2 separate regions of the Homo sapiens genome follow, and region 1 is linked to region 2. Evidence: fine-mapped expression QTL. A gene starts in region 2. The other region holds a variant in brackets. All regions are shown on one strand. Distances are between the middles of the regions. Region 1 has its middle 22 kb from the start of FAM178B. Region 2 holds the start of ACTR1B (actin related protein 1B).

Evidence for each region. PIP is the estimated chance that this variant, and not a neighbour inherited with it, causes the effect.
Region 1: its variant is the best candidate, but not a certain one, in a credible set for the expression of ACTR1B in subcutaneous fat (FUSION, PIP 0.79).

What each region holds. Positions count from the first base shown.
Region 1 is chr2:97,005,979-97,010,368 of GRCh38, reverse strand. It overlaps the pseudogene LOC100421288. Among named protein-coding and RNA genes, the nearest start is that of FAM178B, 22 kb to the right of the region's middle. The variant AAACG/G (reference allele first, on the strand shown) is at 2,732.
Region 2 is chr2:97,661,577-97,665,966 of GRCh38, reverse strand. ACTR1B (actin related protein 1B) reads left to right here and starts at 1,923. Exons shown (of 11, transcript NM_005735.4): 1 at 1,923-2,124; 2 at 4,021-4,085. The coding sequence starts at 2,077. It overlaps LOC124900516 (U4 spliceosomal RNA), which reads left to right and starts at 1,236; the gene lies at 1,236-1,376. It also overlaps a transcript of C2orf92 not described here and the pseudogene RNU4-8P. RefSeq lists enhancers at 1,405-1,744, 2,785-2,854, 2,820-3,461 and silencers at 1,825-2,284, 2,365-2,424.

The sequences.
Region 1 (4,390 bases), 660 kb after region 2:
AATAAAAATTCGACTGCCTTCAAATCAGAAAATGTTATTTCTGTTCTCAGTTTAACTCCTGATGTGTGTGTGTGTGTGTGTGTGTGTGTGTGTGTGTGTGTGATTTTGGCCAGATTTTCTCATATCTCTTTGGGTTTTCTCATTGTATATTTGAAGATATGAAAAGACAAAATTTTTGCAAATTTAGCTAAATGATCAAATTGGCTTCTAACTGTGATTCAAAAATCAGGAAATATCTCATCCAAAAATAGAGAGTTTCTGTGCTGGATATGGGACAAGAGCCAGTTTTTGTAAGGTTTCTTGAACAGGAACAAAGAAACAAAATAATACAACAAACGAAATGGTTAACATCAGGTTACTCTTCTTGCATAGATGAAAGAATGGAGGACTTCCTTATCATGCTGGCTAAAGCTGGCCTGTTTTAGCATTTGGCTATTATGCATCCGTCCTGATTTTTTACTAAGTCAGGTAAACAATGTAATTAAAAACTCAGGGATGCAGAACTTTAGCAAGAATAGCTGCATTTTGATTTGGTCTGTTGGGGCATAGTCCAAATAAATGGCATTTTTAAAAATTTGAATTAACAGAATGTTTTTACATTTATCTCACATTTTTATAGTATTTTAGGATTTAATTTTCTATCCTTGTTATTCTTCTGAGGTTTCCTTAAAATGGCTGAGGACAGTCACCTAATACATACTGGAATTTTATACTTCTAACCTTTCTAACTTTTAGGAACACACATGACCTTATTTTATAGGGGGAGCTTAAATTCATTATTTTATTACTTGAAAATTTCAGAAAGAAAATATCTTTCTTTCTGAATTTTCTGGGAGATAGGCAGAATAATCTGGGAGATAGGCAGAAAATCTAGAGACAACTGAGAGAAGAGGGCAATATAATCACAATGTGGAAAAGAGATCAGTGGCAATTTTTTCTTTTAATCCAATCTTGGAAACAGATCATTTATTCACTCACCCATTCTTTAATCCCAGCCACCTGGAATTCCCTTGTGAGTCTCTTCCCTCACCTGTAGTTTATTTCCAAACATATTCGGGAAACATGCACAGAGAACACTACATTACCCTAATCCTATTAATAAAACAATCACTTTAATAGGAAGGAAGAAGCCTGTACGAATCAAAAAGGATGATCAAGACAAATTTCTGTGATTTTTTTTGTAGCATCGTGCATGGAGGATCGACATGGTTTCCACAGAGCTGGAGTCATTCAGGAAAGCTTCTTATATCGAGAGTGGTCCAGAAGAATTCTACCAAAGATTTAAGAAGTGTTTTTCTGCAACTCACATCTTCATAAGTATAAAGGGTAAAGATTCTCAGAATACAGCTCATGGATATCTGATTCTTAACAGGTAAGACAGATACTGTCCAAGAGCATTTCCAACAGGATAATATTGAGTAGTGTATCCTTCCATGCACCTGGAAAGCCAGGAATTAGAGAAAAGTATGAAGATGAGAAAGCAGTGTCATCTGCTGTTGTTGCAGTGATGGTACAAGCTCCAGCTTACCAAACTATCAGTGGGCAGCACACTGCCATTACTCAGTGAGGAGCTTTAGAACTAACTAGTAATGATACTCTTGGTGCACAGGGACTGCAGAAAAGATAATGGACTAGAGGAGCCACTCTATTGCTGGTGACGTACACAGTGCACTATCTAGAGACCACTGATGGGCAGAGAATGCTAGCAGCCAGTAACCAGGTTGTCGTACTAGCTGTCACAGAAAATGTGCCATCATCCCAGATTGGCATCCTCTATCAGCATTGTGCCTGGAGCTGGTAGGGCATCTTTCCAAGGTCCAACTGCTCAGCTTTTCAAAAGGCAGTGGAGAAGAGAGAGAGGCTGGCCCGAAAAGAAACAATGAAGCATCATGAGAATATTGTAGAAAGTATAAGGAAAATGGGAACAATTTAGAAAAGAAAATGCAGAACTTGGAAAAGCAAACAACTCTTTCATTAAGGACATAAATGCACTTAAGAGGTTTGTTATTGTAAAAAATAAAATAGATTATGTTTCAATTTATATGTTGTGTTTATTTGCATGGCAAGTTTCCTGACATTAGCTTTATTGAAAGAGCTATTTGTTCTGAAGAAAAGCAGCAGGAGTATCTCAGATTAGTACTGAAAAGCAAGGATACCATAAGGAAGAGTTTGGACTATGATAGGAGCTTCACTTGAATGCTGAGTTATAAAATCTGGTCAGGTAGTGGTGTGCAAGATGTTCTATAGGCAGAAAGAGGCAACAGCTAAGAGAGTAGAATAATTTCCATCGAAAGGAGCCTTGGTTGTTAGTCTAGGATACAAGTAACAGGCAGAGAGATGGAAGGAAAAACAATATAAAGAACATCTCTAGCCAAACATTTCAGATATTTCCATCTTATCCCTCAAAAGTACTTATCTAGGCCAGGTGCGGTGGCTCACGCCTGTAATCCCAGCACATTGAAAGGCTGAGAGCGGCGGATCACCTGAGGTCATCAGTTCAAGACCAGCCTGGCCAACTGGTGAAACCCCGTCTCTACTAGAAATAAAAATAAAAAATTAGCCGGGCGTGTTGGTGGATGCCTGTAATCTCAGCCAATTGGGAGGCTAAGGCAGGAGAATTGCTTGAACAGAGGTGGCGGAGGTTGCAGTGAGCCGAGATGGTGCCAGGGCACTCCAGCCTGGGGAACAGGGCAAGAGTCCATCTCACAAACAAACAAACAAACAAACAAAC[AAACG/G]AAAAACCAACTTGTCTAATGCGGTCCCATCTTCTCCAACCCAGAGCGTGTGAGGTGTGGATTCCTTATTTGGTCCTAAGCATTTGGCTGCATGGCTGAGACAGCTCTTCCTCTCAGTTGTGCTCTATGTCCTTGTTTCTCTGCTGTGATATCAATTTTGGGTGTCAGTTTGAGTGCGGACTTTCATGATTGACACGGGTGGCACTTTGTGGTATGTGTGACGGCAGATCCTCATCAGGACACAGATTCAGAGTTAGTTTCTCAGAAAATGAAGATCTCAGAGGGAAGAGCTGTGCCTAAACTAGCCCCGTAAAATTTGAGAATCAGTCAATTACTCTGCAGAAAAAGAAACACGCCTAAAATTTTACATGGAATTGTCTTCATTGACAAGTTTCTTGCCATATTTTAGTTTAGAAACTGTACATATGAGTAGGTGACTATGAAGTAATGGCAACAGTAACAACAAGTTGATAGTATTCCTAAATATAGAAAACAGCATTTTGCCTTTGTGGAAAGAGAAGAGAGGACATTTGCACAGAGGAGCGCCAGGCACCATCTGATGAGGGATGGGTACCAAGATTGGAAATGATTACAAGGAAATATATAAATGGCAATAGATAATAACCACTTTTAATTTAATTTATTTACCAATCCCCCAATTTAGTGAGGTGTACTTTGTATGTAAGATCTAGTTTTGTGATTCTTATTGTTTAAATCAAAGAAAGTAAATGGTTTTGTATCTGAATTGATGAAAACTCGAGCAGTTGCAGCTAACTTGAGTTTGGTAAAAATATCCAGAACCTGAACTGATTCTGTTAAAGCAGGAGGTCATATTGGAGAGGTCACTATAGACTCTGTATACAATCTGGATGGATGTTTTGGGGCCAAATTTTGTATTTCTCAAAAAGCAAAGTGGCCTCAATTAACATCAGAGGATCTAAACATATCTGCTCTGTTTTTGTCCTGTGTGAGATGTTGTGAAGTGGAACAAGGAAGAAAGAAAGAGCACAGCCATGAGCTACCATGGCAAGTAGCGGCCCTGAAACCAGAGTTCTACAGTACAGGGCTGGTCCTCAACAATGAAATACTAGCTGATACTGGGTGTCTAATTTGCAAGAAGAAGACCAACATACAAAGAAAGAGCCTTTTTACTAAGCATTAGGGGTTATGACAGAAATAAAATTTTTTCTAGAAATGATGAGACAGAAGCTAACCACCAAAATTACTCATGCAGGGAATATTGCCATAATAACCAACGAATGCATGTTTTACATGTTGGGAAGAGTTTTCTTAGGACTTCTTAATTTTCTTAGGACTAGCACCAGAAAAAAGCAAAAACATCTGGAAAAGACTGAATAAAAATTCCTTTCAAGGCCAGACATAGTGCCTCATGCCTTTAATCCCAGCACTTTGGGAGGCTGAGGTAGGAGGAAGGCTTGAATCCAGGAGTTCAAGATGAGCCTGGACAACACTGAGACCCTCCATTTCTATAAAAATATTTTTTTAAAAAATTAGCCAGGCATGGTGGCACACACTTTGGTTCCAGCTACTTAGGAGGCTGAGGCGGGAGGATCACTTGAGCCCAGGAGTTTGATGCTGCAGTGAACCATGATTGTTCCACTGCATTCCATTCTGGGCAACAGAGCTAGAGCTTT
Region 2 (4,390 bases):
CTCTACTAAAAATACAAAAAAATTACCTGGGCGTGATGGTGCACACCTGTGGTCCCAGCTACTTGGAAGGCTGAGGCAGGAGGATAGCTTGAGCCTGGGAGGTGGAGGTTGCAGTGAGCTGATATCAGGCAACTGCACTCCAGCTTGGGCAACAAGGTGAGACCCTGTCTCAAAAAAACAAAACAAAACAAAATATATATATATATATATATATATATATATATATATAGAGAGAGAGAGAGAGAGAGAGAGAGAGAGAGAGAGAGAGAGAGAGTCATGCTTTGATGTATTTATGCATTAAAATGCCAAGGATAACTTTCTTTAAATCAAAAAGCACTAAATTTTGTTATGCTGTCAGCCCACCCTCATGTAGACATAGCTTAGTTTTTACATAGATAAGACCCCTCTATAAGAAGAGTTTAATATAAAGAGGGTGTGTTCCCCCTCTTGCTTTCTGAGGATGGCCTACTCTGTAACTGAGTAGCTTTCAATAAACAATCGCTTCTCACTGCACTCTGCAACTTGCCTTGAATTTCTTCTGGGCAAGATCCAATAACCCTCCCTTGGGGTCTGGATCGGGACCCCTTTTCCAGCAACAATATTGTTTCTTGAACTCGGTGGTTATGCAAGTGTGTCCACATTTTAATCATTCATTGAAATGTACATGTACACTTGTGATTTCTGCACACCCGCTTCAATTTTACAAATTTTATGCTCACAACCCATTGGGAGAGGTATATATACAGGGAAATAACTATGGATCCGTTTGGTAAACAAATGTAGAACTCAACTATCCTGCACTCTTGAAGCAGCTGACTCCAGTGCCGCAGGGGGCTACCTGCATGCCAATTCCACACCCAATAATCTTGGGCAGGTTACCAAAGTGTGAAGACCCTGACTGAAAAATGGGAGTAATAATACAACTACCTGATATTGTTGCAAGGATTTAATATAACTTATGTAAAGTGGGCAGAAGTGCTCCGCAGGCACAGAGCAGGTGCTCAATAAATGCCAGGACCAAAATACCACGAAACTGTAATTTTTATAAGGAAAAGGATCTTTTCTTCAGTGCTCAACGAGGAAATATTATGGGGCCGTGCGCAATAGCTGACGCCTGTAATCCCAACGCTTTGGAAAGACTAAGCGGGAGGATCGCTTAAGCTCAGGAGTTCGAGGCTAGCCCGGGGAACATAGCGAGATCCCTTCTCTACAAAAAAAATTTTTTTTAATTAGCTAGCGTTGCGCGGTGGCCGTATGGTGGCCAATGAGGTTTATCCGAAGCGCGATTATTGCTAATTGAAAACTTTTCGCAATACCCCACCGTGACGACTTGCAATATAGTCGACATCGGCAATTTTTAACAGTCTCTACGGAGACTATTTCAGTAAAAATAAATAAATATGGTGCGCGCCTGTAGTCCCCCCTACTGGCTGGCGCGGGAGGATCGCTTGAGCCCAAGATTTCCAGCCTGAGCGACAGAGCAAGACACCTTACCTAGAAAAAAAGAAAAAATAAATATTTTGGGTGAAATATCCAGGGCCGGCCTCCTTGGAGAGGGCGCTCTCACGAAGGAGCGTGGCCCGAGGTGCTGGGACGCGGGAAAGACGTCTTTCTGGACCGGTGCTGGGACGCGGGAAAGACGTCTTCCTGGACCGGTGAATTTCCAGCTCCACAGACTCCGGCCGCGCGCACACCAGCCCAGCTCCACTTTCTGCCGCCCGCGTCCCCTTTAAGACGGAGCCATGACATCATCCCAGACACTGCGCAGCCTACCTTGGCAACGCCGCGACCACTTTTTTCCGGACGACCTCAATTGGCTGGCCAGCCTCCGGAGGCCCCGCCCCCTTCGCGCAGCCAGCCCCGGGCACCTGCTGTCAATCGGGCCAGGTGGGAGCGATGATTGGCCGCCGGGCCCGCCCTCCAGAAAGCCCCGCGGGGCTCGCGTAGGCTGCAGGCTCGGGGAGGGAGGGCAGCGGCGCCGCGTCGGGAGCCGCCGCCGTCCCGGTCCTCCCGCCCGCCCGCCCATCCGGTGCCTCCTGCAGCCCGCCTGCTGGGCAGGGCCGGCGCGGCCCGGCCATGGAGTCCTACGACATCATCGCCAACCAGCCTGTGGTCATCGACAACGTGAGGCCCGGCAGCCAGGGGGAGGGCGGGCGCCCCGCCCCCGGGGGCGCACGCGGCGGCGCAGGGAGAGACCCCCGCCCGCCTCGGCGCGTCCTCCGCTCACTGCGTGGCCGTCGCCCCCGCCGGGCCGCTGGCTTCGCCCCGGGGGCGCGCGCCCTCTTGGCCTTGTAAGGCCGGCCATGGGGCGAGCCCCCTCGCCCGCGTCGCAGAGCCTCTTCCCCGACCCCTCCCCGAGTCGGGCGGGGAAGTTCAGGAGAGCTTGAGTGACAGCCGGGCGGCCGGGCGGGGACGCGCCCCGGACTCTTCTCAGTTGAGAGTGCGGTTCCTGGGCAGGTTTCCACACCAGTTCCTTTCCGCGTCCTTCGGCCCTGGCTCTGGCTGCCTGGCGGAGGTGGGGTAGCATTTGTCATTTGCACACTGCTGGCTTTATCTTTGGGGCTGCACCCCGAGGCAACAAATGCAGGATGCTCTGTCACCCACATGTCCACCACCATCTGGTTTGCCTTTTGGCTACTTTGACTTTCTCCTTAAATGCTTCCTGTGCTGAGCAAACATTCCACAGCCAGCAGAGCAATGGAGAGTTCATGGCCACTCTTCCCAGTATCAGCAAGCAATTTGGGGTGATCGTTTGGAAGCCTCAGAGGAAAGATGTCATCAGGCTTCCTGTGGCTTTGTCCTTCAGCAGTGGGGCTCGGCTTGCTTTCACCTGCCTTAGGAAGATTTCTGGCTTCCGAGCTCTGATATGGGGAGAAGATAAGGGCTGGGATCTTTGAGTCTGCCCCTAGCTGGGTATGTGCGTCCGGTGTGCGGGCCTTGGAGTTTTTGGTAATGACTCACTTGTGCTCTTTCTGGGATCTGTCTCCCTCCCACATGACCCCGTGGGGTCCCTGAATGACTGTTTTAGAGTACCCATGTGGGTTCCCTGAGTCACAGCAGGGGATGTTTAATAAGGAGGTTAGCACTGAGCTTGGGGACGTGCTGTCACACCAGCAGGACGCTGCAGGAAGGAGCAGGCTACTTCCTTTCTTGACGTGCAAATAACTCGTATAGGCTAATCAACAGGCTTATAAGTTAAAAGGGCTACCGCTCGGCCCCTTGGGGATTCCATCCCCTCCTCTGTAACTTGGAGATGTTTGTTTCTGCTGCAGACTCAGAGGGTTGCGATGAAGAGTGGTGGGACTGAGTTGAGAAGCTTATCCCTTCGCTGGGTGGGAGGTTTCTAATTGCCCCGTTCTTTGGGGGATCCTTAAGTCCAGCTTCCAGGTGGGGGCAGCGATAGGACCAAGTTCTCCTAGTAGTCTCTGGGAAGCCACTTGAGGGAAGCTGCCGGTCATCCCATGCACCCATTGGTCTTCTCCAGCAGGCCCTGTAGGTCGTCCATGTTCCATGCCTTCTGGGTTCTTGGGGGAGAAGGAAGCTGTTGAAAAAAAAAAAAAAAGACCCACACAGAGGGGTTTCTTCTAGCTTTTGGGAGTAGCATGTGCTATGGAATCCTGCTGGAGCCAACCATTAGTTGTGCAGAGGAAGGTGCCCTTCGTGGTTTCTCTATCTCTATATTATTGACATTCTGGGCTAGCTCCTTGTTGGTAGTGCAGGCTCGCCTGTGCATCGTAGGATGTTGAGCAGCATCCTTGGCCTCTGCCCACTAGATGCCAATAGCATCCCCCACTGCATGTCCCCTCTCCCCAGCTGCCAGACATTGCCAAATGTTGCCAGAGCAGGGGGATACAAAATTGCCCCCAATCTTGAACCATAGGTGTACTTGTAAATGATCCTGGCAGGGTCCCTGGCTTCCTCCTTGGCCTGCCTTGACGGGGCAGCCAGCTCTCTCCATTGCGGGGGACTGGCTTCATCTGGTGGTGCATGTGGGCAGCTCAACTTTGTTTTTCCTTGCAGGGTTCGGGGGTGATTAAAGCTGGCTTTGCAGGAGACCAGATTCCCAAATACTGTTTCCCAAACTAGTAAGTGTGGCTCAGGCAGCAGCCTTAGTCCTTTTGTTTACCTTCTGTAAGAACATTGGCCTTCTGTCACAGGGCTCTTTGAAGACAATTTGTGCCCTGACCTGTATGGAAAACACCAAATTTGTGAGGTTGACACTCTTGAGAGAGCACTGAAAGAACAAGACAAGCGTTCTAGGGTTCCCCTTTGTCTTGGGAGTCTCTCGTTTTGGTCTTGTTGAGCCAGCAAGGAGGAAAAGCAACCAGCATTTCCCTGGGGATGGGGTGTGGTAGCAGCAGCAAGAATAAAGGGAGACATCTCCGAGGGG